Regions from separate parts of the Homo sapiens genome. Here region 2 is linked to region 1. Evidence: fine-mapped expression QTL. A gene starts in region 1. The other region holds a variant in brackets. All regions are shown on one strand. Distances are between the middles of the regions.

Region 1 (15,604 bases):
AAATTACAAAGACCAAAAGATGGGAGAGGAGTCGGAAGAGTATAAAGTGTGCAGAAGTCCTGGAAGTGTGTTGGCAAGGACTGGAAATACACTGCATCATTTTCAACTCTGGCAAGTAGAGCTTACATCATGTTTTCAAAGAGCACGCACATTCCAAAGCACTGCAGAGGTTTTAAAGAGAAAATGTGGTCCCTACATTAAGTTAAAATAAATGAAACAGCAAGAAAGCGTTTAAAAAGGCAACAACAAAGATGACAGAGGTTAGATCACATATGTTGGTCAAAACAGTGCACATTAAACAGATGCATTAAGGCTCCAATTAGATAAAAAATGAAATCCAACTACATGTATTTCTGAATGGCAACCCACATAAAGTGACAGAAACGTTAAGCAAGGCTCAGCAGGGGCACACTGGGTGAATGTAAAAAAAAAAAAAAAAAAAAATTCAGGCCGGGCGCAGTGGCTCACGCCTGTAATCCCAGCACTTTGGGAGGCCGGGGCAGGTGGATTGCCTGGGTTCAGGAGTTCGAGACCAGCCTGGGCAACACAGTGAAACCCCGTCTCTACTAAAAAAAAAAAAAAAAATTAGCCAGGCGTGGTGGCAGGCACCTGTAATCCCAGCTACTCAGGAGGCTGAGGCAGGAGAATCGCTTGAACCCAGGAGGCGGAGGTTATATGAGCTGAGATTGCGCCACTGCACTCCAGCCTGGGCAATAGAGCGAGACTCTGTCTCAAAAAGAAAAAAAAAATCAGTCCAAGGAGACTCCTAGGCAAAAATTAAAACAAGACCCAGCATAATCAGGATAATTTAATATTAATTAAGAGAAAAATTTTAAGTAAGGATGGAGCATCAGGAATCCCTACCCACTGATGACTGCAGTGACCGCCCCCTTCCCTCACGCCCCCTTGGCCATGAGGATTTCCTCCTCCAGGCCCTGGGGCTCCCTTCCCCTCCACTTCCATCTGGAGATGCTGCTGGCCAGAGACCCTCCCCAGGTGCCCATTGGAGGGTGCATTGTTCCCACCAGCCGTGAGGGGAGGTCCTGTGGGCACGCTGGACATAGTATCTCAGAATATTTTCCCCATCCGGTGTCAAGGAATAAACCAGCATCTGAGGAGCCAAGTCTGACAGGGGACACTGGAGGCGCCACCGCCCTCGGGGGTGGCTCACTGTCCACCTGTCATCCCTGAGCGCATTGGGCAAGGTCAGAAGAATGACCACAGGTGAATCTGGTGTAAAAGAAGGTTGGCTTTTGGCTCCTGTTCTTGCATTGCAGACAAGCCCACACCCCTCCTGAGAGCTGGGTGTCCAGCCTGCTGCCCGAGAGGCCCCAGTGCAGCTGAGCACAGGTCCAAGCCAAGCCTGGTTCGCCCCAGCCCTTGGGGAGGGGAGGCACCGAGGCGCTGGAGAGGTGTTGCAGCACCGGGCCATGCCCGCCTGACCTGCTCACCTGCTGACACCCAGGGGCCCTGGGCCTGGCTGGCCGCCACCACCTTACTTTGTCAAGCTGATTGTGGACCAGCCCCAGCCCCGCCACGGGCCTCGACTGCCACCGTCTCAGAGAGGCTGACATGGTGGCCTCACAGGTCCCCGGGCCCAGCGTCTGATGCACGTCCTGCAATGCTCCCTCTGTTTTGCGCCCACGCTGAAGTGCCACAAACACCTCTTCTCTCCTCAGCAACTCTGGTGGCTTTGCAGATCTTCATTAGCTCACCTGGGATGAGACGCTGACCTGAGCTGGAGCTGGGGTCCTGCAACCATGGCCAAGGCCCCCCGTCCACACCGCCGAGGCCAGGAAAGCCGCGCCATGTGAGTGACGGGAAGAGGCCGAATGAGGGCCAAGGATTACAACTGTCCTGGAAACCGGCGGCTGCGCCATCTGCCGCCGAGCTTGGCACTGTTTGGGTCACTTATTGGCACGTCCACCTCGCCTGTCTCCACGCATCCTCTCCTGAAAGCGAGGACCAGGTGCTGTATTGAAGAGCTGGGCGCTCGGTCCGCAGGCAAGGACAGCAGTGCCCGCGGCCAAGGACGGTGCTGGACTGGATGGTGGAGCTGGAGGGTGGGGCCTCGCCTCATCCCGGGGGACCGCCTAGTGGAAGGGCTGCCAGGCACTCAGTGTCCCCCTCGTCTGATCTCCGTGTGGACCAGGAGACCCAGGTTCTCTGAAGTTTGGCAGCATCAGATTTGCGTGGACTCAATGTTCATTCTGAAGCTTTCATCAGTTCCCTGTTCTGTCTGATGTCCCAGCATTAAACGCTCTGCGCTCCCCGTGCGAGTCCAGCAGCGTCTGATGGCAGCAAAGCGGGACTGAAGTAGTCCTGTCACGCAGGAGCTATTGAAACAAATGCTCTAACCCCAACTGGAACGTCTTGCCAACCAATGAGGCAAAAACATAAATAACTTTGTCAGTTGAAGTGCATAATATCCATTTTATTCCCAAGTTGGGGCTAAAGTATTTATAATTGAGTTGCAGCTTAATCAACCAAGAGCATCCTCTCTGGAGGAAAGGACTGCCCTTCACGGTTTCGGGAGGAAAGGCAGTTTCTCTGAAGGGTCCTTCCAGCCTCCCAGAAATCTGGGATAAGAGGCATCTCTGCCGAACCCAGCAAAGTGAGTGAGTGCTTTCTCGACCACACGGCGTTTGTGAAGTCCGTTCTGAACAAATGTTGGCATTTTACTGTTAAGTGTTTGCAAACTGCCTTTCGAGCACATGCCTTGTTCCAAGGAGTAAGGCTGGGAAGGACACACTGCTGGGGGGTCATTGCCTAGCGGTTCTGCACCTAGAAACCAAGTCTCCCCAAGTTGGGTGTGAGTCAGGCACTGTGGGACGCCTGCCCAACACCCGGCCTCTGTTTGGAGTAGGACGGGCCCACCCTGGCCCCCACCTTCCTCTTCTAGCTGTGGCAAGTAAATGGAAACCCTCCATGAGAGTCTGTAAAGACCACCACTAAACAGATGAAGGGGTTGCCCCTTAGCTCCTCTCTTTTTCCTTCCCTGACTATGGATGCAATGCTGGAGCAGCAGCAGCCACTTTGAGATTGTGAGGAGCAGCTGAGCATGAAAGATCCACTGAGGACGAAGGTGGCACCTGATGGCACCAGGTCCCCAGTAGCATCGCTGAGCAGCTGGGCCACCTCCTGACACATCGTCACCCCAATTCAAGCTCCTCTTCCTCTGATTGTTACTTGCAGCCAAAAGAATCTTCCCCATGTGGAATTCAAGAGCTTCACCTCCGGATCTGCTGCTGTCCCTGCAGCTCAGCCCAGCCTGCAGCTCCACCGTCCTCCCAGGTCCAGCTCAGCCCAGCCTGCAGCTCCACCGTCCTCCCGGACCCAGCTCAGCCCAGCCTGCAGCTCCACCGTCCTCCCGGACCCAGCTCAGCCCAGCCTGCAGCTCCACCGTCCTCCCGGACCCAGCTCAGCCCAGCCTGCAGCTCCATCGTCCTCCCAGGTCCAGAGAGCCTGATCAGTGGCCCAATGGGGCAGGAACTGGCAGAATCCCCCATTGCCTCAACCACCAGGAGCCTGTGGGGTCCCTAATAAACAGAGAAGGCTGAGCTTCAAACTGGGCAAGAAGAGAGAGGCAGGAGAGCCAGAGGGACCTCTGTCTGGGACAGGGTGGACACCCAACCTTGCCCATGGTGTAAGTCTCAGGGGTGGACACTGGGAATCAGGGCAGGATTGCCCAGATCCCAGTTGCCTCCATGGCCCTGCCTGAGGTCCCAGATGGTGAGTGCTGAGCCCCACTTTGGTGCCGGGAAGGAGGAAGGAGGTGCCCCCTCCATCCCCGTGGAGGGCTGGGGGAGATGCTGGTGTTGGCTGCATTGTGGCTCAGGGCATCCCTGGCCTGGACTCCTGGCTCTGGTGGTCTCTGCTCACAGAGGGAGATTCTTTCCCAACTGCACCCCTCACCAGCCTCACGTGAACCCCCAAGGTGGACACCCCTCACCAGCCTCACGTGAACCCCCAAGGTGGACACCCCTCACCAGCCTCGCGTGAACCCCCAAGGTGGACACCGGTGGCCCCCACAAGCCCCTTGGGTTGTTCCTGCCGAGAACTCACAGCCCAGCCCCACGGGGGCGCGGAGGGGCTCTCCCACACGGTGGAACCCTGCACTTCCTGCCTGGGCCGTCCACGAGACACTTCTCGTCCACCCCGGCTTGGATGACCACAATCCTCCCCCTCACGCCAAACCCAGGACCGCACCCCTACGGTGTGTTCTCCCCAGATGTTCACCTGCTTCCCTCCCCATGTAGGACTGGACACAGAACCCAACAGCGTACCACTCTCCGGGGACAAGGACAGCTTCTCCACTGAACCCAGGCCAGGCTGTCGCCCCCCAGGTTGGGCCTGGCTGGGTGAGGGGCATTCACTGCCGGACACTGTCCATCGTGACTGAACCACCGGAGTCACTGGACCTGCCCGCTAGACCTCCCCACACGTGGCAGAGCCGAGCATGGGTGAGTCCTGCCTTGGGCTCTGTCGCTGGGGCAGTCAGAGGCTCTCCTGAGTGTCCGGCTGCCTCCCACTCTGCACCCCAGCCTCTCCGCACATGCATCCTCCAAGCCGTGTCCCACCTGAAGCCCCGGCCCGCCTGCCCCACACATTCCCGAGGACCTGAGCGTGTTTAAACAGGGCGTGTGTCACATCAAGGCGGAGGATGGGAGAGCGGGTGGCTGCTCGCTTCTGCCACATTTAGCCCCATGAGGGTCTGCAGTGACCACGGCACCCACACGTGCCACGTTCCTCCACGCTGTCCACAGAGCTCCCAGGCCGTGTTTGCAACTTTCTGGCCTGAGGAAACCAGTTTCTTTAAATTACTCCCTTGAGGACCCTGGATCCGGACCCACGTGTTGTGGGGGGAGGCCCGGCCCCAGTTCAAGGCCACTTTTGCTGCAGAGGAGCCTCCCGCTCCCCCACGAGCGATCACCCCGGCAGCCACCATGCTCCCTTCCCTTGGTGGCCCCAACAGGGGCCCCTCCTTGAGACCCAGCGTTGGGTCAGATGAGCAGGCCCTGGGCCACTCACTCCTCAGCAAGACTCACACCTGCGGCCCAGCCTGCCGCGGACAGCCCCCGAATGGTCTTGATTTAACCAGGCCTGTCCCCCTGCCCAGAGCCCTGGGCAGGTCCTCACCTCTTCCTCCTCTCTGCTGCACCCTCTGACGGGCGTGCACGTGTGCATGTGCCATGCTGCCTGCGCTCCTGGCCCTGACTCCTCTTAGCAGTTCATTTCTAATGCGTCTCTCTCCCCACTGTCTCTCCCTCTGTCTCTGTCTCTCCCTCTGTCTCTGTCTCTCCCTCTCACCACTGTCTCTCCCTCTGTTTCTGATTCTCCGTCTCTCCCCATCTCTGTCTCTCCCTCTGTCTCTGTCTCCATCTCTATCTCTCTAACTCTCTCTGTCTCTCTCTCTCCTTCTGCCTCCACCTCTCCCTCTGCCTCTCTCTGCCCTCTTCCTTTGTCTGTCTGTCTCTCTGTATCCCTCTGTCTCTCCCTCTGCTCCCATCTCTCCCTGTCTCTGTTTCTCCCTGTCTCTGTCTCCCTCTGTCTCTGTGTCTCCCTCTATCTCTGTCTCCGTCTCTCCCTCTTTCTCTCTCTCCCCTCTGCCTCTGTCTCTGACGTGCCGTCTCTGTTTTCACCTGTCTGTCCCTGTGCGTGCTGAATAACACATTCTTGTCTTTTTCTCTGTCTGTTTCTGGGCTGTCATTTTCTTTCTCCAGCTCCCCCTCCCCGACCCTGTTTCTGGGTTCGCCTTTCTTTGAACGGCTTCCTGGGTGCCTCCTGCTCCCTCTCCTGCCAGCTTCTTTGTGTCCGGGGCTTGGTCTGTTTCTCAATAGTTCTCTTGGGGTCTCTGCCAAGCTCTGTCGTGCTGTCTGGAGGTTCCCCCATTTCCCATCTCTGTCTTGCTCTGTCTCACTCACACGCATCCTGAGACAGCAACAATGAGGCTCGCCGGGTGAGGGACAGAGGCGCAGAGGCAGAAAACAAGGTCTCGACTGGAAGCCCCCCACCAGCTCCCGCCCTCAGCAGCTCTGGCTCCGAGCCTCAACGTGCTCTGCAAAGCCAATGTGGGGTGCTCTGGGAAGCACTCAGCGTGGAGCCCCCCCAGGGTCTGCTGGCTGCCCCCGCTCAGCTCCACCACGCTGAGCGACGCCTGCCCGGTTGCTGCTGCTGGAGAAACTTTGGGCTGCCATGAAACAAAAAGGGAATTCAGGCTGGTAATTACCCAGCTAATTTCAGTCATGTAGACAGCCAAATAAGATATTTCAGTTTCTTACAAGCCCACCTCAGGGCCTGAATTAGCCAACTAATTAATTATCCGTAACAGCCTGGGACTCCCTGGGTGGAACGTGCGTCCCTCCCAGCGCAGATGCAGGCTTGTCCCTGAATCACAGCCCGGTGACGCAGCCATTATAATTAGACTCAACCTGACTCTTACCCTTGACCACGAAATCTCAGGGATGTGGCCCCAGGACAGGCTCAATATCTTTTCATTTAATTTGTGTTGAGTGGAAGCACAGCCACCCTCCGGGAGACAGCCAGGCAGGCAGCTCCTGCCCTGGGGGAAGCGGCGCCTGCCCTCTGTACACCCTTGTCCCTGGCCCCTCGAACCCGGCCAGCTCCCCCACTGCAGAAATGCTCCCAGGAGGCCTGACTCACTCCAAGGTGTGAATGGCATCAGGTGAGGGTGCTCCCCCGTGGAGGCCACCCAAGCAAGACGTCTCTAGTGGTAGAATCGGGCACCGGCCACAGGTTCCCCTCACAGGAGTTCTGGGCACTGGTGCTGGGGGAACACAGGATGGACGGCTCTGGGCAAAACTGAGACTCGCCACGACAGCCCCGAGGCCTGAGTTGACCCATCAGCTCTGCCGGGACACGTCTGTACCAGCATGGCCCAGGCCCTGCCCACCTCCTGGTCTAGGAACCCAGCCACTGCTCTTGACATGGTCTCTGGCCACAATGACAGCCTTGGGTCAAGTGGGGACGAGGTTCCTTTCAAATAGCAGACAGCAGGTTGGAAGGGGGCCTGGCCCCACCCCAGTACACACAAAAAAGGCTGCACGTCCCGCCTGGGAGGCAGTCGAGACACACAAGCTGTTTCGGGCCTTTTCCTTCGCTCCCGTAACCAGCAAGCCCTGGTCCCTGAGGATGGCGCTGCCTCACCCAAGTGAAACCCACAGGGTCCTCGCCAGATGCACAGGCCAGCTCTGTCCCCACGCCTGTCCCTGAGGCTGCCACCTGCATCCTGCTCTCCCACCGCTTGGCTCTCCTCATCTGGAAGGAAGCCCCCTTGGGGGCTGCCCAGCCTGGCCAGTTAGAATTGGCCCTGTAAAGCCTACGCCAGAGTGTGCACCCTCCCCCAGGACGTGCATCAGCATGGTCCATGGGCTCTGCCCCGACCACAGCAGTGGGGCAGAGTGAGCTTACAGGGCAGCCCCTGTCCCGCCAGGAACACCAGTTCTGGCTCGGGGCCTCGAAAAGGGCCGGGCTGGGGGCGCTGCTGGGCACGGTCCTTGCTCCTCTGCCCCAGGCTCCTGTGCAGGGCTGCGTGGGTGGCCGTGTGGCTGCAGGGGCGCTGCTGCGGTGGGCCAGATGAGGAGCAGCTGCTGTGGTGGTCTCTCCATGTCCCCTCAGCCCCTCCCCACCCCACCTCCCGCTTCCTACCTCCTAGAGCCTGCTTCATCACAAACTCCATGGCGATTGCTCTGCTTCCACAGTGGCTCCTCCAGGGGTCAGAACTCACACGCAAGTATGGCCGGGAGCGAGTGTTCTTCCTGGGGGAGAGTGAAGTGGTCACAGGTCACCCTAAGCAGGCCCCTGCCTGGCCTTCCCCAGAGACCATCATTCCTTACCCGCAATACCTTGTGGGCTGGACCCTCCCCCACCTGGAGCGGCTGCCTGGGAAGTCCTTCGTGAGGGGCTTCTGTCCCCACACCCAAACCAGGACCCCAGAGGACCTGAAAATGGTCTCCCCAGCTCCTGGGGTGTCTGAAGCCTCTGCAGGGAGGGCTGCTGATGGCTTAGGGGGCATCGCTCAGAGGCGCCTGGCGCCAGGCTGCGGAAGCAGGGGCGGGGCCCAGGGGGCGTTTGAAGGTGACTGCTCCGCTCTGCAGCTCAGTGTCTGGAGCGGCGCCTCCGCGGTGGTCCCGAGCCCAGGGCCGTGGAGAAGGGTTGGGGGTGGGTCTTTGAGCGGGTACCCTTCAGGGCGGGCTCCTGTGGCTTCTGACCAGGGAGGCTTGGGTGACCCTATCCCTGACGGCACTGCAGTCAGTGTGCCCCCCACATGGCCCGCGTAGAAGAGATCGGGGTTGGGGAGAAACTTCAGGGGGCTCAGCCTTCAGGAAACACGTGGGGACGGGGACAGAGCACCCCCGCCCCGGGGGCGTGCATGGGGTGGGGTGGGGCGCTCTGGTCCCCTCTTGGGAAGCCGCTTTCTGAAATCACAGCAGCCGCAGTGAGCCCCCCGGTTTTGCGGGGTCTCTCCTATCGGGGAACCCCAGGTCCCTGGAGAGACACTGTTTGACGGTTCACCCCTCGCCCTCCGCAGAGGAAGGAGACTCGCGCGGGGACTGGGAGGGCGGCGGGCGGGGAGCGCCCCTCGGAGGCTTTGCCGCAGCGCCGATTCTCCTCCAAACTTCTCCCCTGGCTCCCGCGGCGCGGGGAAGGAGGGCACGGCCGGGCCCCGCAGACCCGCAGGGCTCCGGCCCCGCCGCACCCGCACCCCTCGGCTTTGCGGGCGGGCGAGCGGCCCTCAGGCGGGAGCGCGCCAGGAGAGGAAAGAAAGAGGGCGAGGGAGGAGAGGGGGAGCCTCGAGACAGGAAGAAGCGAGGAGGAGGCCGGGCGCGGGCCGGGACCGCGGGGGCCGCTTCAGCACCGCGGCAGTGGACAGCGCCCGCCCCGGACCCCGCGCGCGCGGAGCCCGGGAGAGAAACGGGGGCTGCGGGGAGAAGCCGGGGTCGGGGGGAGAAACGGGGGCCGGAGGGAGAGGCCGGAGCCGGGGGGAGAAGCCGGAGCCGGGGAGGAGAGACCCGGGGAGCGGAGGCCGGGGGGAGGAGCTGGGCGAAGCCGGGGCCGCGGGGAGAAGGGGGGCCGGGAAGGAGAAACCGGGGCCGGCGGGAGAAGCGGGGAGAAGCGGGGGCCGGGGAGGAGACGCCGGGGCCGGGAGGGGAGACCCGGGGAGCGGAGGCCGGGCGCGCGCTGCGCTCGGGGCGCGGTTACCTTCCCGGGGCGCGGGCGGTCAGCGGCGGGGCGCGCTCGGGCCGGCTGGGTCCATGTGGCGCCCGGTGAGCTGCGGCGGCGGCTGAAGGGCACCGCGAGGAGGGCGCGTCACTCGCAGGCGCTCCCCGCCCCCCGCCCGCGTCCGAGCGTGACGAGCACGGGGAGGGGAGCGCCGAGGGGCGGGGCCGCGGGCGCCGGGCGGGGGCGGGGGTGGACCCGGGGGCGGGGGCGGAGGCGGACCCGGGGGCGGGGGGCGGGGGGTGGACCCGGGGCGGGGGCGGGGGGTGGACCCGGGGGCGGGGGCGGGGGGCGGGGGCGGGGGGCGGACCCGGGGCGGGGGCGGGGGGTGGACCCGGGGCGGGGGCGGGGGTGGACCCGGGGGCGGGGGCGGGGGGCGGGGGCGGGGGCGGGGGGTGGACCCGGGGCGGGGGCGGGGGTGGACCCGGGGGCGGGGGCGGGGGTGGACCCGAGTGACGCGCCCCCGCCTCCCTCCAACCCGGCCCGGGCTCGACCTTCCCCCGGCGGGCGCCTGCGACCCCCGCCCGCCCCTGATCTGGGCGCCCCCGGCTCTGCCCCCCCGCCCCCAGCCCGACGGTGCGGGCCTGCTCCCTACAGGGTCCGCGCGGGGCCGGTGGGTGCAAAACCCTCGGGCGGAGAAGTCGCTGCCTCCCGAGCGGAGGGGCCAGGGGTTGGGAGTCGCTGCCGCCCCCATTCTCCGGTGACCGTGTCCCTGAGCGCCGCCCGCCGCCCCGACCCCTCTGCCCCGACCTCCCCGTATCGCAGGGCGGGAGAAGGGGGCCCCCAGACCCCTGAAAACCCACGCAAGCCCCTCGCAGCCAGAGACCCGCAGGCCGGCCCGGGCTCACTTTCGGTGTAACGGAGTCGCTGTTTCCTTTACCGGGACGAAGGCCAGAGACCCCACCGCTCCCTCCCCTGGCCCCCGGGATTTCCTCTGCAGCGGACGCGGCACTGCGGGAGAGCGGGGTCGCCGCAAGGTCGGCCCTGCGGTTCGCGCTGTGCAGTGTCGGGAGCCAGGCGGCGGGAGGGATGGGGCGCACCGCGACCCTAGAGCTGCCCTGTGCTCCTGGCGGGGTGGGGGTGGGGAGGGGGGAGGGGGGCCGCTGCCGGTGGCCGCCGCACTAACTTGTCACTGTCCCCTCCCTGCTGAGTCCTGGGGACTCCCCTGGCGCAGGGAAGATGCGGCCCCTCCCCCGCCCTCAGCCCCATCCCCTCCGGTGCCCCGTGTTTAGCCTGAGCTCAGGAGGACTCAGAGGCCTGGACTCCCAGCCTTGGCCCCAGCGCCTCTGCCCCCGTCCCCACTCTTCTGCTGACTTGGCAGGGGACCCTTCGCAGAGGAAGGGAGCGCTGGGGGAGAGGGAAGGGTGAAGGCACCAGGGCCAAGCCCATGGGGGCTCCCTGAGACAGCCATGAGGGTCCCGTGGGCCTGGGGGTTCACAGGCAACCTCCCAGAGGGGGACCCATGCCCTAGGATTGGGGTCTCTTCAGCCTCCCTGGCTGGAAGCCATGGGCACCCCCAGCACCGTCCCTTCCTCTCTCCCGGGATCTGAGCCAAGTGGGCTCAGAACGTTGGGCCCAGGGACAGGAGGCAGGACACATGCCTGGGGGCCCGGCCTGAGCCCCAGCCTGCTCTGCTCCATCTGCTCCTCTAGTCTCCTCAGGACCTGGGAGGGGACAGCAAGGGTGAGATGTTCGGGTCCAAGAAAGAGGTCACTTCTCGGCCCTGGTGCTTTCTCTCTCCATCCCTAACTGGGTGGATAACCCAACAGCTAACCCGGACAGTAACCCCAGAGAGGACCCCAGGGGTGACCCCCTGAGCCCAGAGCCAGGCTCATGACTGACCCTGCCACCTCCACAAGCTGCATGCAAGGGATATGCTGGTGCCTTTGGGACAGTCTGCACAGGAGTGCAGGGAGGTGCCCGTTCTTCCGAGCAGAAGCACTGGACTCCTAGGCTGACCCCTCCCCGTTCTACAACCCAGGCCAGCCTGAGCTCCAAGCACACCTGGAGCTGGGGCCTGGGGCACAGAGGACAGAGACCCTCTGCCAGCCCTCACGTTCTGCCCTGTCTTCCTCTGCCTCTCTCTCTGTCTCTTTCTCCGTCGCTGTATCTCTCTGTCACTGTGTCTTTCTGCCCGTCTCTCTGTCTCTATCTTTCTGTCTCTGTCTTTCTCTGTCACTGTATCTGTCTCTGTGTCTTTTTGTCTCTCTGTCTCTTTCTATCTCTGTCTCTGTCTTTCTGTCTTTTCTTTCTCTGTCGCTGTATCTCTCTGTCTCTGTGTCTGTCTCTGTCTCTCTGTGTCCGTCTCTCTCTGTCTCTGCCTGTCCCTGTTGTTACTTGTTACATCCAGCCACACATGCAGTGACTGCTTCTCAGCTCTCACACTTGTCTAGGCCCTAACCTGGGGGTGGGGGGGCCCAGCCACAACTTGGGGGAAATAGACAAGGTTGGTGACAGCCCCAGGTCAGAGTGACAAGTGGCCTAGGGAAGGGAAAGTGGGCATCTGCTGGAGGAGTTGAGGGTGGTGCCCACTCAGGGTGTGTGAGCTGGGCCAGGGGAAGGGAAAGTGGGCATCTGCTGGAGGGCTTCAGGGTGGTGCCCACTCAGGGTGTGTGAGCCAGGCCAGGGCTGCCCAGCTGGGATGGGAGTCACAGGCTGCTGGCCAGGAGCCACCCAGGCTCCGTTCCAGTGGCAGAAGGTGGTGACGCGGCAAAAGGCCTCTGCCAACCCCCACGGGCCACTTGGCCACACCAGGGCAGGTGCGGTTGGCCCTTCGAGTGCCCAGAGGAGGCCCTGAGCCCTGGAGAAGAAGCCCCGCAGACCTCCAGCCGGCTGGAAAGGGGCAGGAGCTGAGTGAGAAAGGGGCCAGCAGGTTGAAGGCCAGGTTGAAGATCCAGGCAGGGAAAACATTTTGCAGGCCGGGGAAGAGTTGGAGGCCACCCCGTCCAGGCGGATGTTGGGAGAAGGAGGAGGTGGGGTGTGGAGCAAGTCCGGGAGGAGCAGGATGGAGCTCCAACGAGGGCTCCCCCAGAGGTCAGCTTGGAGAAGTGTGAGTGCTTGGCTGGGCCGAGCCCTGGCTGTGGGGCCTGTGCCAGCCGGTTGGACATGGATGGTACCCCCGGCCCAGCCAGCCCTCTGCTCCTCAGATGCTCCATCCCCAGCCCCAGTGAGGCCAGGGACCCCAGGAGCACAAAGCAGGACTGTGTGAGGACCATGTGGCACTGGGTTTGAGACCCTGCGGGGTCACTCCAGACAGCAGGGAAAGGAGGCAGCTGCCCTGCTGCAACCTCCAGCTCTAGCCTCTCTGGAAGCCCCTGCCAAGGCCTCCACTGCCACCCTGCTCCCATCTTCTGGGTCCCATCTGCCCATAGCCCTCCTGGGTGCCAGGCATCCTCCTTGCCTTGGGCCAGGAAAGGGTCTGGGAAGCACTGTCAGGGTTTCCTGGGGTTGGCCTTCAGTCCTGGCGTGGGGTGTGGCCAGGGGGCCATGTCCCCCATGGGCCCAGCAGGAGGGCAGCGCTCTGCCACACCGCATGTGTGGATCCGGCCCACAGCACCCACCCAGAACCTTCAAACACAAACTTAATAGTTACATGTGCTGAGTGATTCAGTCTGAGTGCCGACACCATCCACGCTGTCATTTTCCTGCTGGATTTTGATATTCCAAAAGTAACAACACGTGAAAAGCGTGAGCAAAGCAAGATGTAGACCCTTGCCGTTTGCCAGAGCTGGGGCAGGACCTGGGCTGAGTGGAGGGTGTCCTCGCCTGGGAAGCGCCCTGAACCCGTTCCCCTCCTCCACTGGGTGAGAGAGGTCCAGCATCTAGCCGGGGGAAGCCAGCGCCTGGGAGGTCAGCCTAGTGGGCCCCTGGGAGCAGAGCAGAGGTACTGCCGCAGCTGAGCGAATGCTTGTGCCCCAGGCCCTGCCCTGGGGTCCTGGGATCCACGGCTGCCCGGTCACACGGTGCCCAGATCTCATGGTGCCCCAGGGCACACATGGGGCCCGCTCTGAGCTGATCTCTTGCGGCCCAGCATGGTCCCAACCATGCAGTCAGCAGCACCAGGTAGCCGGGTCAGCGGCACTCACCCCTGGCTGGAGGGAGCCTCTGAGCTGGGCAAGGCCAGGTCCCGGGCAGCCCACCCGCCAGGCCAGGGCCCTCCAGCTTCAGGGGGAGCCACCGGCTCCAGCCCTGCGCTGAGTGTGGGGTGTGGATCTGGCCTCCTTCAGCCGGGGACCCTGATCCACCAGGGACCCAGGGCAACAAAAGAGCCGCCCGTGGGGAGTGGGCTTGGGGTGGACAAACCCAGAGGCTGTGGAGGAAAGGGGCCTTGCTGTGGGCTGCAGCTGCTCGAGGGACTCCGCCCTCCCAGCCTCAACACCTCAGGGCAGGAAGGAGGGGCTTCAGGGGCCTTCCCGGAGGACAGGGTGAGAGACAGCTCGTCTGGGAGAGGCAGGGCTGGCCCAGGGGTGTGGCTGGCTGGGTGGTGAGCACAGTGGGTGGTGCTGGAATTTGGAGATGGGCAAGAGATCCTGGGAGCTGCCAGTCGTGGGGAGGAGAAGTTTCCCGGGAGGATCCTGGGCCAAACACCTGCACTCCTGGGACCCAGAGCCTCAGATGCTCCTTAGGGTCTTGAGTGCCGTGTGATGGAGCCGGAAGGGGTAGGCGGGGGGCAGAGGGCAGGGAGAGCTGGGTTGAAGCCAGGCTCAGAACGCCGAATGCCCCTTCCCTCCCTCCCTCTCCTCCAGTGACACCTGGAGTGAGGCCACATCACATGCATGTGGGTATTTTTGGGAGCATTTCATGCCCAGGAAGTGGGAGGAGGAGCTATTTTGGCTCCCCAGGAGCACGGGACCCCTCCGGCAGCCCTGGTGCTCACTTAGGGAAAGGGCGTGCACGGCTCAGCCGGGCTGTGGCCTTCTCTGTGTCCCCTAGGGCTTGACCTCCTGACTGTCGGACTTTGTGTCCATGGGTGTGGTGGGGGCACAGTGGCGGAAGTGAGTCCCTGGGGCTGTCCCTGGAGGGCAGAGCAGGGGCATCTTAGGGTGGGGTGGGCCTGGGAAGGTGCGGGAGGGCAGCACCGTCTCACAGGGCAGTGGGCGCCAAGGCAGTGCTGCAGGACAGGGCAGTCACCCCAGCAGTGTAGACAGCATAGCGGCGCCCAGCAGAGGGAGGGTGTCCAGTTCCAGGGAAGGTGCCTGGGCAGCTGGAGGCCAGCAGACAGGGGTGTTCACAGCACAGAAGTTGTGCGTTGCAAACCAAGGCTTCCTGGGTCTCAGCTCCCCCTGCTCAGGGGCTCCTGCTGGGCCAGGGACACACGTGTGGAGTGGGCAGCCTGGCCCTGTGTGGCCTCTCTCTGAGCTGCCTCCAGGAAGCTTCAGGAAGCTTCAGAGGCTCCCACGAGGTGATACGGGAGAAGCTGCTGCCTAGGGTATGTGTATCCCACAGCCCCTGGCCCCGTCCACCCACCCTGCTCCTTTGCTTAGGCACTGGCTCAGCCCTCAGTAGCTCAGCCACCCACTAGCACACAAGTGTTTCCAGACACTGCTGGGAGCTGGGCACTTGTCCTGAGGAGGGCAGGTGGGGCTGTGTCCTCACAGGGTCGTGTGCTGGGAGGAGACAGTGGACAGGAGCTCAGGAGATGGCAACAAGAACCCTGCAGGAGCCTGAGACAGAGTAGGGAGAACACGGCCATTGGGGGGTCAAGCCAGCCCTGAATAACTTGATGTCACCCAGGCCCATCACAGGTGAGGGGATCACGGCCGGTGGGGGGTCAAGCCAGCCCTGAATGACCGGATGTCACCCAGGCCCATCACAGGTGAGGTGAGCACAACTGTTGAGGGGTCAAGCCAGCCCTGAATGACTGGATGCCACCCAGGCCCGTCACAGGTGAGGGGAGCACGGCCAGTGGGGGATCAAGCCAGCCCTGAATGACTGGATGTCACCCAGGCCCGTCACAGGTGAGGGGAGCACGGCCGGTGGGGGATCAAGCCAGCCCTGAATGACTGGATGTCACCCAGGCCCGTCACAGGTGAGGGGAGCACGGCCGGTGGGGGATCAAGCCAGCCCTGAATGACTGGATGTCACCCAGGCCCGTCACAGGTGAGGGGAGCACGGCCGGTGGGTGATCAAGCCAGCCCTAAATGATTGGAGGTCACCCAGGCCTGTCACAGGAAACCCAAGGAGTGCCCACAGTGTGGGCTGAGGCCTGGGGCGGGGACAGAAAGGAGCCCTGAGTCCAGCCTGGGGGAGGCTGCTCCAGGCTGTGCACCCCACGGTCCCAGCACACAGTGGCAAAGGGGTACCTGTGACCCCACAGGTGCTGCAGAAACATCTGGAGGGTGTGATTCCCAACCTGTGCTAATGG
Region 2 (8,000 bases), 67 kb before region 1:
GGGTGCCTGTAATCCCAGCTACTCGGAGGCTGAGGCATGAGAATCGCTTGAACTTGCAGTGAGCTGAGATCGAGGCACTGCACTCCAGCCTGGGTAACAAGAGCGAGACTCTGACCTTCTACGAACCCTACATTCAGCTTCCCTTGGAGCGAGCAGCTGCCCAGTGGACTTCAGGGGCGTTCTGGGTCCTGGCAGGAGTCGCCTCCGTCTTTGGTGGTCCTGGCACCCACAGACCCAGTGGGACTGCAGGGCTGGTGTGGTCTCTGCTCATCTTCGCTCGTGCAGAGTTAGGAAACCCTTACCGGGCCTGTTGACTTGGTGGGTGTGATGTCCCAGCACCAGAAACAGGGGAAATGGCTCCTATACCCTGAGCAGGCTGGGGGTTCTGGTGTGGGGTCCCTGCCGCCCTCCAGAGGCTCCAATGGCTCTTGTGTCTGGAGCTGGAAATGTGGTTTGTTTTCACTCCTCCGAGTTGTGCCTCCCTGGCCCACTGGCTCCTGTCCGCACCCTCGGGCACGCGCTGTGCTCTTGGGACTTCACACCCGAGAGCCGGTCACCTGCTCCTGCTGCACGCCTGCTGGAAGTGGGCTCTGCCTGCAAGGGCCTCGCAGCCGGCGTGGTGAGGGTTGGCTGGTGGGGAGCGGAGAGCCCACCCATCCAGGCCAGAGCCCCTGGAGGTAGAAGGGGCGGAGGGTAGAAAGAGCCTCTCCTGGACTGTAGAGGTGAGGCAGGAGGTAGTGAGCTGGGACCTGGTGCCAGGCTGCCCCACGTGCCGTGGGTGGTGAGTCCGGGGCAGAGTGAACGGGTAAGGCTGGAGGTGAGGTTGGGGACCTTGGGGGCCTGTGGCGAGAACTTGCTGTTCACCCAGAGGAGGGAGATGAGGCAGTTGGGATGTGAGATCGGGGTGTGCTGTGGGATGCAGCCTGGCGTGGCTTTATCCCCAGAGGGTTGCCACTTAGCGCAGCTGCTCTGCAGTGAGCTGCCTGCACGGCCAGGGTGGCCATGCGGAGACCAGGCAGGCGTCTGAGCCAGAGGCCCAGGCAGGTGGCGGTGCGGGTGCAGCACTGGGTTTGGGGCATATTTAAAAGGGAGGGAGCCTGCAGGATTCGCTGGTGATCCAGATGCAGATGGCAGATCTTGGGCTCTTTTTCACTTCCAGGTGGACAAGGAGCTCAGTGTTCCCAGGCAGGCCGATGTGTAGCCATAGACAGCGACAGGTCTTTCTGCAGTGCCCTCTTTACAATCAGAGTTGCATTTCGAGGTGTGTAACGTACCCGCTTGATGGTGACTGCTGTGTGCACACAGGCCCGCGTGGTGTCGCAGAGCACACGGCGTTGTGTGCGTGGCACGTGTTGTTACGCTGTGACTTTTTTACACTTAATTTCCCATCTAATACTGGAGACTTTTAGGTGGTGACCAGCCCATCACTCTTCTAAGACATTGCACTTGTCCCCCTGGGCAGGTGTGTTCCACGGTATCTGTGTTATTTCTGATTCCAGTCTCCTGTGTGTGGGGTGTCCAGCGACTCATCGCACGTCTCTGGGCTCCTCTGCGTGTGAGTTGCTTACTTGTTCTTTGCCCATCTCTGTCCTGGGAAGACTGACTTTTCCTTATGTGAGCTGCAGGGCTACCTCCTCCCTCGCCGCCCCACGCTCACTGCAGGGATCGTCTTTCCTTCTGCGGCTGTCGGCTTTCTTCGACCTATCATCATCCACAGTTTTAAAATTTGACATAATTAAATGTATCGGTATTTTCTTCTGAATCTTAAAAATGTTTCCCCATTCTAAGGTCATAAATACATTCTCTTACATTGTCTTGTAAAATATTTTAAAGGTTTGCTTTTTAGTTGGGTTGTAAGCCCCTGCAGTTGACCTTGTGTGTAGAATGGACAAGGTGGAGTTCAACTTTGCCAAGTTTCCACACTCTCAGGTCCCCCTGGGCTCTCTGCTCTGTTCCGCTGGTCTCTTGTCTCCCATTGTGCCAAAACAACAAGGAACTTACTGAATTGCAATGATTTATTTTACCATTAAGTTGTGGTCTTCTGGGAGAGTACATACCCCTCCTCATTTTTCTTCTTCAGAATTGTCCTTTTTTTTTTTTTTTTTTTTTTTTTTTTGGAGATGGAGTTTCCCTCTTGCCCAGGCTGGAGTGCAAGGCCTGATCTTGGCTCACCGCAACCTCCACCTCCCGGGTTCAAGCGATTCTTCTGTCTCAGCCTTACAGAGTAGCTGGGATTATAGGCACATGCCACCATACCCAGCTAATTTTTTGTATTTTTAGTAGAGACGGGGTTTCTCCATGTTGATCAGGCTGGTCTTGAACTCTTAACCTCAGGTGATTCACCCGCCTCAGCCTCCCAAAATGCTGGGATTACAGACGTGAGCCACCGCCGCACTTGGCTTTTTTTTTTTTGAGATGTAGTCTTATACTCTGTCGCCCAGGCTGGAGTGTGGGGGTGCAATCTCGGCTCACTGCAACCTCTACCTCCCTGGTTGAAGTGAGTCTCCCACCTCCGCCTCCTGAGTAGCTGGGATTACAGGCACGCACCACCATGCCCAGCTAATTTTTGTATTTTTATTACAGACGGGGTTTCACTATGTTGGCCCGTCTGGCCTCGAACTCCTGACCTCAAATGATCCACCCGCCTCAGCCTCCCAAAGTGCTGGGATTACAGGTGTAAGCCACTGCACCCGGCTCTTTTCTAAACTCTAGAGTTGAACATTCCTTTAGTTTCCAGCTTCATAATTTGGTTCTTATTAAAATAATTCTAGAATTTTCATGTTTTTTTTAACCAGCTTTCTAAATTGTGTTACATGCACATAAAATATGCCATTTTAACCATTTTCAGGTGTGTGGTTCAGTGGCCTTGGGTACAGACCCAGTGTTACACAGCCACCACCACCACCATCATCTCCAGAGCCTTTTTATCTTCCCAAACTGAAGCTCTGCCCCCATTAAACACTCACTCCCCACCCCGCTCCCCCAGCAGGGTTAGATCGCAGAGGGGCCTGCCGGGGGCTCTGAGGTGATGGAAACCATCTGAGACTGCCATGGCGATGATCGAGAAAGTCTGTGAATTTACGGAAAATTATTGCATTATATACATAAAAGAGGTGTGTGTAAACTGTGCCATAATAAAGCCTAAAAATTAGAAGCATGCTTGTAACTTAGTGTATTTAAATAGGTAATTCGTTCAGTCCTGAGGTTAGTATTATTGAAAAGGTTTAATTTTGTTCTCATCTCTGCCGCTGTCTGTAGTGACCTATAGAGAACCACTGTGATCACCTCCTGTATGTATGCAAATCTGAGCAAACGTAAACATATTTTCTTCTTGTTTTCCTTCCACAATCCCCCCCACTCCCACCCCCGCCCATGTGTGTCTGCGTTTTCCCGCAGGTGCATGCAGGCCCGCGTTCATCTGTGCAGCCCTTCCTGCTGCCCTGCGGGCCCCATGCACTGCAGACCCCGCTGCCTCAGACCTGTGCCTGCGTGGCTGGCACACCTGTTCCCTGAGTCGGAGACGGCGGCTGCCTGTTGAGGGCAGGGTGCGTCCGCTGCTTATAGAGACGTGAAGCCCACCATGGCCATTCTGTTGGCGTGCGTTTGTCACCAGCTGTGTTCCCGTATAGAAACGTTTCTCGTCTTTGGGGGGCTTCTTCCTCATTAAGCTCTATTTCTTAAAGTCCCATGACATACTAATCTAGCTATGCCAGCTTTCTGTTGGTGAATACTTGTGTGATATTTCTGTTCTTAAAATGTCTTAAATGTGACACTGTTTACAACGTAGAGCTAGGTTTTTTAAAAAAATCAAACTTTTTTAGCTGGCACGTTACCTTACACATTCCACGATTTTCCATGGAGGATGTGAGTTGGTTCCTGCTTTATTTTTTTATTTTGCTCTTTTCGTCAGTTTTTTCCTAATGCTTCCTTCCTCCCTGTTGTCTAGTGAATTAGTAACTTTCTTTAATCTCTTTCTTTCTTCCTCTGGTTTGCAAGGTATAAGCTCTACTTCTGTTATACTAGTGGTTACAAAATGTATAAACTATTTACATTTTTAGAAATCCAAAGTTGGCCCGGCGCGGTGGCTCACGCCTGTAATCCTAGCACTTTGGGAAGCCGAGGTGGGCAGATCACGAGGTCAGGAGATCAAGACCATTCTGGCCAACTTGGTGAAACCCCGTCTCTACTAAAATACAAAAAAATTAGCCGGGCATGATGGTGCG[C/T]GCCTGTAGTCCCAGCTACTCGGGAGGCTGAGGCAGCGGAATCGCTTGAACCCAGGAGGCGGAGGTTGCAGTGAGCCGAGATCGTGCCACGGCATCCAGCCTGGCTACAGAGGGAGACTCTGTCTCAAAAAAAAAAAAAAAAAAAAAAAAAAAGTCCAAAGTCACTGTAAGTCTGTGCCCCTCCCTGCACAAGCACCCCCACCGCGGCTCTCACCGGGCACCCCCTTTCTCCCTGCTTCTCACTTCTTCCGCCAAACTCCAGGTCTTTCTCCCCGCGCGGCCCCTCTCCCGAGTTCTTCTCGCTCCGGACTCCAGGTCTTTCTCCCCTCGAGGCCCCTCTCCGGAGTTCTTCTCCTTCCGGACTCCGGGTCTTTCTCCCCGCGCGGCCCCTCTCCCGAGTTCTTCTCCTTCCGGACTCCGGGTCTTTCTTCCCGTGCGGCCCCTCTCCCGAGCTCTTCTCGCTCCGGACTCTGGGTCTTTCTCCCCACGCGGCCCCTCTCCCGAGTTCTCCCTCCAGACTCCGGGTCTTTCCCCGCACGGCCCCTCCCCCGAGTTCTTCTCCATCCCGACTCCAGTTCTTTCTCCCCGCGCGGCCCCTCTCCCGAGTTCTTCTCCTTCCGGACTCCAGGTCTTTCTCCCCGCGCGGCCCCTCTCCCGAGTTCTTCTCCTTCCGGACTCCGGGTCTTTCTCCCCTCGCGGCCCCTCTCCCGAGCTCTTCTTGCTCCGGACTCCGGGTCTTTCTCCCCGCGCGGCCCCTCTCCCGAGCTCTTCTTGCTCCGGACTCCGGGTCTTTCTCCCCGCGCGGCCCCTCTCCCGAGTTCTTCTCCTTCCGGACTCCGGGTCTTTCTCCCCGCGCGGCCCCTCTCCCGAGTTGTTCTCCTTCCGGACTCCGGGTCTTTCTCCCCGCGCGGCCCCTCTCCCGAGCTCTTCTCGCTCCGGACTCCGGGTCTTTCTCCCCGCGCGGCCCCTCTCCCGAGTTGTTCTCCTTCCGGACTCCGGGTCTTTCTCCCCGCGCGGCCCCTCTCCCGAGTTGTTCTCCTTCCGGACTCCGGGTCTTTCTCCCCGCGCGGCCCCTCTCCCGAGTTCTTCTCCTTCCGGACTCCGGGTCTTTCTCCCCGCGCGGCCCCTCTCCCGAGTTCTTCTCCTTCCGGACTCCGGGTCTTTCTCCCCGCGCGGCCCCTCTCCCGAGTTGTTCTCCTTCCGGACTCCGGGTCTTTCTCCCCGCGCGGCCCCTCTCCCGAGCTCTTCTCGCTCCGGACTCCGGGTCTTTCTCCCCGCGCGGCCCCTCTCCCGAGTTGTTCTCCTTCCGGACTCCGGGTCTTTCTCCCCGCGCGGCCCCTCTCCCGAGTTGTTCTCCTTCCGGACTCCGGGTCTTTCTCCCCGCGCGGCCCCTCTCCCGAGTTCTTCTCCTTCCGGACTCCGGGTCTTTCTCCCCGCGCGGCCCCTCTCCCGAGTTCTTCTCCTTCCGGACTCCGGGTCTTTCTCCCCGCGCGGCCCCTCTCCCGAGTTGTTCTCCTTCCGGACTCCGGGTCTTTCTCCCCGCGCGGCCCCTCTCCCGAGTTCTTCTCCTTCCGGACTCCGGGTCTTTCTCCCCGCGCGGCCCCTCTCCCGAGTTCTTCTCCTTCCGGACTCCGGGTCTTTCTCCCCGCGCGGCCCCTCTCCCGAGTTCTTCTCCTTCCGGACTCTGGGTCTTTCTCCCCGCGCGGCCCCTCTCCCGAGTTCTTCTCCTTCCGGACTCCGGGTCTTTCTCCCCGCGCGGCCCCTCTCCCGAGTTGTTCTCCTTCCGGACTCCGGGTCTTTCTCCCCGCGCGGCCCCTCTCCCGAGTTGTTCTCCTTCCGGACTCCGGGTCTTTCTCCCCGCGCGGCCCCTCTCCCGAGTTCTTCTCCTTCCGGACTCCGGGTCTTTCTCCCCACGGCCTCTCTCCCGAGTTCTCTCTCCAGACTCCCGGATCTTCTTCCCGCTCACATTGTCCCTCTCCTGTGATGCTTGCAGGCGGCCTCGCTCCATCCCACCCCGGAGCAAGGATGTCTCTTGCTTTTTGCACAGAATCCACTTATCTCCCCAGTGGCTCTTGCGGGGCCTTTAATGGGCTGTGCTCAGTGACTGCACCGTGTCGGAGTGGGTATTTCTTGTATTTTGGATTCTTTTGCTTCCTGAATCTGAGGACTGCCCTTCACTGTTGTGGGAGATCCTTAGTCACTGTTTCTTAACACTTCCTTTCCTTTCTGTTCTTCCCTTTGGGGCTCCCGTCTTCTCCCCTTTCTCTTAGCCTTCCTTTTATTGTTTGAATTGGTGTGTTTATCTCTACTCCTGATGGGTAACTTCCTCAAGTGAATTTTTTTTTAGGACATTAATCTGTCCTCGGCTGAGAAGAATCTGTGGTTCAGCCATCCACTGAGATGTTAGTTTCCGTGAGTGTTTTTATTTTTAGAAATTGTATCTGATTACCTTCAATACTTGCCCGTCTGTACCCCTGGTGTCCTCCCTTTTGTATCTTTTGTAATTTTAGACATACATGTTTCAGTTAACCCCCTGTCCATTCTTCCACTGCATTTTTAGGCCCTAACTGTGCCGTTTGTTGCGGCTCCACCTGTAGAAGCGTTTGCCGTGAGCGTCGCCCTTCCTTGTCAGGCACATCTTGGGGGCCAAGCCGGCCGGGCCCTTGGGTGAAGCCTCGTCCTGGGCAGATTCCTTTTCGCACCGGGCAGGGAGCCCGTGGCTGCTGGGACTCCACAGTCCCCTTAACAGTCACTTTTTATCCTGCGGCCAAACTGCTGGTCACCTGGAAGGCAGCTGTGACCTTCCGCCTGTGGCCCTGCTCAAGGCTTCTCCCTACTGTCTTCCTGCAGTCGCTGCTGTCTCCCCGAGTGCATTCGCAGACACGGGGCCGCCCACTCCCCTTTGCGCCATGTTTGTCCGGACAGGCTTAGCTGGAGACCAAGAACCCAGTGCCTGCGATGGATAAGTAACTGTGGGATTAACTCTCAACTATTATGTTAATAACACAGAATTAACAGGGTGAGGTTATAGTTCACAAAATGGCAAGCAGACGATAAACAGGTTTTCAGATAAGGTATGTAAGATTCTTTTTCTGCAGTGTTGAAGTCAAAGCAGATGTCTGATCTCAAAAAGGTCAGCAGTCCTAGATTGAGGAATTAGTGAAATATGTCTAAGGAAGCCTCCAGAACCGTCCGGGGGAACCCTCCTGCTGCGCTCTCACCAGCGTCCTTTCCCGCAGGTGAGCATCTGCCTGGAGTGTAACAGCAGCAAACTGCGCGGGCTGAAGCGGAAGTGGATCCGCTGCTCAGCCCAGGCGACCGTCTTGCATCTGAAGAAGTTCATCGCCAAAAAACTCAACCTTTCATCCTTTAACGAGGTAACAGTTGATCCCTAAGTAGAAACCATAACAAGTCCTCTCTTATTTCTAAAGGTAACTCCAAGATTCTTTGCTTAGTTTTGTTTTGTTTTTAACAATTTTGGAGATTTTAACCAGAAAAAAATCCGTTTTGCCTGCTTCACCGGGGAGCGGGATAGGAGACAGCCCTAAGGGTTGTAGGATGCCCAGAGACAGGGAACGTGGAATGCTACTGTGAGTGGAAGAGAGAACTAGGGCGGGGATGATGAGACTGTTTTAAAATAGGATAAAGGTTTTCCTCAAAACGAGAAATTCTGTGCTTTAATTTCACAAGGGGAGACATGGGCGGATGCAGAGAGGGAGGACCCTTCCAGGCTGTGGTGTGTAAGGAGACGAAGGAGTGCTGGCATGAGGCGGCCTT

The links. PIP is the estimated chance that this variant, and not a neighbour inherited with it, causes the effect.
Region 2: its variant is fine-mapped to the expression of CPLX1 in whole blood (TOPMed, PIP above 0.99).

What each region holds. Positions count from the first base shown.
Region 1 is chr4:816,824-832,427 of GRCh38, forward strand. CPLX1 (complexin 1) reads right to left here and starts at 9,306. Exons shown (of 4, transcript NM_006651.4): 1 at 9,223-9,306; 2 at 7,669-7,778. The coding sequence starts at 7,699. RefSeq lists a silencer at 9,276-9,325 and enhancers at 13,134-13,651, 13,652-14,167.
Region 2 is chr4:753,817-761,816 of GRCh38, forward strand. It overlaps PCGF3 (polycomb group ring finger 3), which reads left to right. Exons shown (of 11, transcript NM_006315.7): 9 at 7,463-7,600. LOC124900163 (chloride intracellular channel protein 6-like) reads right to left here. Exons shown (of 2, transcript XM_047416474.1): 2 at 1-8,000. The coding sequence starts at 6,231. The coding sequence ends at 4,348. PCGF3-AS1 (PCGF3 antisense RNA 1) reads right to left here. Exons shown (of 3, transcript NR_171661.1): 3 at 6,627-8,000. Among named protein-coding and RNA genes, the nearest start is that of PCGF3-AS1, 24 kb to the right of the region's middle. The variant C/T (reference allele first, on the strand shown) is at 4,224.